Linked DNA regions of Homo sapiens: region 1 is linked to region 2. The links come from fine-mapping of genetic effects on gene expression. Tissue or cell type: whole blood. Region 2 holds a variant in brackets; the other region holds the start of a gene. All regions are shown on one strand. Distances are between the middles of the regions.

The links. PIP is the estimated chance that this variant, and not a neighbour inherited with it, causes the effect.
Region 1: it holds the start of SCLT1, and the variant in region 2 is fine-mapped to the expression of SCLT1 in whole blood (TOPMed, PIP 0.90).

Annotation. Positions count from the first base shown.
Region 1 is chr4:129,092,305-129,095,072 of GRCh38, reverse strand. SCLT1 (sodium channel and clathrin linker 1) reads left to right here and starts at 1,534. Exons shown (of 21, transcript NM_144643.4): 1 at 1,534-2,003. The coding sequence starts at 1,970. It also overlaps a transcript of C4orf33 not described here. RefSeq lists an enhancer at 1,270-1,839.
Region 2 is chr4:129,005,325-129,008,092 of GRCh38, reverse strand. All of the region lies in intron 5 of SCLT1 (sodium channel and clathrin linker 1), which reads left to right. Among named protein-coding and RNA genes, the nearest start is that of SCLT1, 87 kb to the left of the region's middle. The variant C/T (reference allele first, on the strand shown) is at 1,698.

The DNA.
Region 1 (2,768 bases), 87 kb before region 2:
TTCGAGTGCAGACATAAAAGTTTTCACCTGAGATATTCACTTTATGTAAATACCACTCATCAGTTATAGCCAGAAGGTATTTGCTTCCATCCAGTTTGGGTGTAAGCGTAGAGTTAAGTCTATAATTATTTATTTGATGCCAAGTAGAAATACGACAATATACAAGGTTCAAATGTGGGAGAAGTTACAAGCAAGTCCTTGGAGAGTCAGTGAGATGTTTATGAAGAAAGAGTCATATACTGAACTTCAAAAACGAGTTGGACCTTGCACACTCAATTTTCCCTTAGCTATAACGTTTATACAAAAAGTTTTTGTGTAAACGTTATAGCTACTAAAAATCAGAACAAGTTCAATTATCACCAACTCAAAGCTGGATTAGACCTTTTCAATGATTATTAAGCTACACATCCATATTTAACAGCTAGTCTTTAGAGGAAGGGACCATCTCATTCTATTAACAGTGAGTATTGAGTAAGGCCTTCAGATGCCTAACTGCATATATTTGAATACATTTTTAAAATTTCTTAACACATATCGCTAAGGTTACTTTGTTTATATGACATTATGAGTACGGGACAACAAAACTCTTAAGCCGTTAAACAGAAAGCCAAATCAAGCTGCATCTATGACATGCCTGTTTAGTGAAACTTTACTTCAGTCCATAAAAATACAATTTATTAAAAGCACAAAACTAGTGGCTAGCTTCAAGTTAACATTTTTGTTGCTAGTGGTGAGATTTCCTCTAATGTTAAATGATTTTTTTTAAAAAAATACGTTTTAAGTCCAGACAAAATTAATTTTCAAAAATGAAAATTGTAATCTATCCACAAATGTAAGTTTTACCGTTTTGTTTTTTGCAAAAAAAAGTACCTTTTATCTTTCCTTATATTTGAGGAAACAAGCTTATCTTTGAAGAAGTAGCTGCTGAATTTGCAAGATCTTTTGAGTACTTCTAACTACACGCTTTATTACTACACAGTTAAATATTTAAACAACAGTTGTCTCCTTTGTCTAAAGACCCACAAAGACCGAGAAGGTACTTACCTTCTTGAGATGACCAAATCCAAACCTAGAACTCCTCCAGAGGTACAGCCTTGGTGGGAGATTCTGAAGACGCCAGTCTGGCTTCTATCCCTAGCCGCAGGAACCTGCATCTTTTACTTAGTCCAGAAAGGCTTAGTATATTAGTAACCCAAAGATAGTGAGGGCATTTAAACTGTGTATTTCATTCTCTACTCACGTTTGCATTTTGGTTTTTTGTTTGTTTGTTTGTTTGTTTTAAAGAGGTTGGGCCTCACTACCTGGAGACACTGTCCCACCAGTTTGGCCGCCGCGCCAAGCCGGTGGCTCAGCCCGCTGTCATCCAGGTTCTCACGACTCCTCCCATTGCTTGACAGCCAGCCAATAGCGTGCTAGGACTCTAGGACGCGCGATGGCGTAAGCTCCAACGCCCGCGTGATGACGCAAGAGGCGCCACCGTCTCCAAGGAGTGGTCCGGGGCACCGGTTTCAAAGTCGCAGGGCGGGCCGAGTGGACTTCCGCTGCTGGCCTGGGGCTTCCCAGCCGTCTTGGCGTTGTCCTCTCCAACCCCCGCCGCTCCGCGTAGAACGCCGCTCTCAGGCTGCCGTCAAGCTCCCGCGGCACTCTCCTAGGTGGCCCGACGAGACCCAGAGTGACCCGCGGGACGCCTGTATCGACCGCGTCCTCTTCCCACCAGCGTGGGATTCGGTTGAACGTGGAGTCCCCAGCAATCTTCAGTCTCTCACCAGGGCCAGGGACTCGTCTGGGGCGCGGGGGAAAGAAGCGTGGCGGGGCTGTAGATGCCGCGTGAGTAGGATGCAGATTGCACCGCTGGAGCGCTTGACAACCAACCGAGCGTTGGCTTAGTTTTGTTTTCCCGCACAGCAAGCTCTCTGTCTTTCAGAGGAAGGTAAAGGTGGTGAAAGCTCTAAACTAAAATTGTATCGAAATGGCTGCAGAAATCGACTTTCTGAGAGAGCAAAGTAAGCTCCATGTTTTTTTGAGACTTCATATACAATGTTTAATATCGTCGTCGTTGACCGACAAATCTTTTTTGAATGCTGGTTGGGTACATTTAAATTGGTAAAGAGTTAAAGAAGTTAGTTGCAGGAAAAAAAAAACCTTGATGTTATACGTGAGGATGTGTGTATATTTAAGCAGAACCGTGTGGTAGTACTTGTAGCTTACACAGAATTCTACTAGACGCTAAACATGTTTGTTATGCTCCTCTCGTGCTCTGAAGATTAGAAGGCTAATGGCCAGCAGGAGTTTCCAAGTGTGCATTTAAAATCTAGGGGCACAGCTCTCTGGCCATTTATTAAAAAGATGTTTATTGAACTCCTGTTTCTATTATGTACCAGACACTATGGAAGAACAGCTGCTGCAAAGATAAACAGGACAGTTTTTACCTCCAAGAATTTAATTTGGGGAGGGAAATGTATTCCAAAATATATTGAAGTGACAGCAACTGCTGGCTCTTTTGCCACAGTCTCATAGGGTTGTTGGAAAGATTAAATGAATATTAAAATATGTAAAGGATTTAGAATAGTATCTGATACATTGTGTTAAACAAATATTAACTATTACACGATTATTATTAAAATATGTTCAAGGAAGGTGCTATTGGGCTGAAACGTGCAGTACAAATATGAATTTACTATATGAAAAACTCTAGGCATCCCAAATAGAACAATATTTGTGACACTGAGGGGATTAGGAATATGCTTTGTTAAAGACTTGCAATACGG
Region 2 (2,768 bases):
TTAAAATGTTTGAGGAGACTTGAAATATGAGCCAGCAATACCGTACATTTAGGAAGAGTGTAAATGGAGTTGAGATAGTCTCAGGTGCTTACATTATCCATTAGAAATAGGATACTAATTTATAGTAGAGGGTGGCAATTCTCAGAGGCATGTTACGATGTCTGGGCTGAGCACTACAGTAAACTAAAAGATTCTATCACTTCCAAGCTCATGGAGCAGGAAAGTGGAATAATAAAATGTAATTAATTCCAGTTAATAAGAAAGAATAGGAACAAAAAGAGAGGTGTTTTGTTTTGTTTTTTTAAAGTCAAGACATATAGGAAATACTAAGGTAGTAGATATAAACCCAGATGCCTTAGTAATTGCATTAAATTTTGCTGTACTACATGCTATAATTTTAAGAGTGATTTACCAGAGATTAACTAAATGAACCCACAATTACATGCTTTTAACCAAGGAGATTCGTAAAATACAAGAGTACAGAATGGGTGAAAATAAAAGGATAGAAAATATGTATACCATGGAAGTGCTAACTGAAAACATGCTGGTAATATCAGACATAGTAGAATTTAATGTGAAACAGATGATTACAGATTAAAAGGCGGTTTCCATAATGATACGAAATTATATTTGCCCAAAAGATATGACAGTTCTGAATGTGTAAGCACTCAATAACAAAGACTCAGAATACAAAAATGTGATAGCACTGAATGGCAGAACAGACAAATGCACCATTATAATAGGAAATATGAGCAGGTTGCTCTCAGTAAATAAAATAGCAACCAGAAAAAAAAACAGTAAGTTAAGATGCAATATTTGAATAATGCAATTAAGAAATCTCTTAAGGGACATATATAGAATACTAATACCGAAGACCTTCAAAATATGCATTCTCTAAGTACACGTGATAGTTTTCTGAAATTGACCAACTCAAAAAAAAAGCAACTCTCAGATTATAAAAGGATTGAAATTATTCAGATTATGTTCTTTGATGACAGTGAAAATTATGCTAGAAATCAATAATAAAAAGGTAACTAGAAAATCCTCAGCTTTTTCTAAGTTAAGCAGTATGCCTCTAAATGTTACTCACAGGTCAAAGAACTCACAATGGAAGTTAGAAAATATTTTCAACTGATTAATAAAGAAAATAACATAACGTCGGCGTTGCCACTAAGGCGATTCTTAGAGGGAAAGCTGTAATCTTAAGAGTATGTATTAGAAAAGAAAGTCTAAAAATAATGATGTCTTAGAATTTGTTGAAGAGGTTAGAAAAAGAACAGCAATCTAAACCCAAAATCATATAACACCTCGGGAACAGAGCACACTCGGTGAGAGACAGCAAGCATTAGAAACGCAAGATTGGACATCTATTCCCCAAGTATGCCAGATACTGAAGCAAACAAAATTAAACTATGTATAGGTAGTCCTTCCTTTGTATGAAGTGTAAGATTAAAAAAATGACCTTGCAAGCTGAAACTGTACAAAATTATCTTAATAATCAATGGGGGACAATTACGATATTTCTGTGACCTTTAAATTTTTTTTTTTTTTTTTTGAGACAGAGTCTTGCTCTGTCGCCCAGGCTGGAGTACAGTGGCTTGATCTTGACTCACTGCAACCTCCGCCTCCTGGGTTCAAGCAATTCTTCTGCCTCAGCCTCCTGAGTAGCTGGGACTACAGGCACACGCCACCATGCC[C/T]GGCTAATTTTTGTATTTTTAGTAGAGACGGGGTTTCACCACATTGGCCAGGCTGGTCTCGAACTCCTGACCTCGTGATCCACCCACTTCGGCCTACCAAAATGCTGGGATTACAGGTGTGAGCCACCGAACCTGGCTAAAAATTTTAAGACCCTAAAAACTGTCTTACTGTCAGTTATAATTATACTGCTTGTTATAACTACATTTTTTTATTAAATGAATTTTTTTTATTATACTTTAAGTTTTAGGGTACATGTGCACAATGTGCAGGTTAGTTACATATGTATACCTGTGCCATGCTGGTGTGCTGCACCCATTAACTTGTCATTTAGCATTAGGTATATCTCCTAATGCTATCCCTCCCCCCTCCCCCCACCCCACAACAGTCCCCAGAGTGTGATGTTCCCCTTCCTGTGTCCATGTGTTCTCATTGTTCAGTTCCCATCTGTGAGTGAGAATATGCGGTGTTTGGTTTTTTGTCCTTGCGATAGTTTACTGAGAGTGATGATTTCCAATTTCATCCATGTCCCTACAAAGGACATGAACTCATCATTTTTTATGGCTGCATAGTATTCCATGGTGTATATGTGCCACATTTTCTTAATCCAGTCTATCATTGTTGGACATTTGGGTTGGTTCCAAGTCTTTGCTATTGTGAATAATGCCGCAATAAACATACGTGTGCATGTGTCTTTATAGCAGCATGATTTATAGTCCTTTGGGTATATACCCAGTAATGCAATGGCTGGGTCAAATGGTATTTCTAGTTCTAGATCCCTGAGGAATTGCCACACTGACTTCCACAATAGTTGAACTAGTTTACAGTCCCACCAACAGTGTAAAGGTGTTCCTATTTCTCCACATCCTCTCCAGCACCTGTTGTTTCCTGGCTTTTTAATGATTGCCATTCTAACTGGTGTGAGATGATATCTCATTGTGGTTTTGATTTGCATTTCTCTGATGGCCAGTGATGATGAGCATTTTTTCATGTGTCTTTTGGCTGCGTAACAAAGAAATAAGACACTTTAATTCTCAGTGTTTCTGATATTTTAAAGTACAGTGTACTAAATA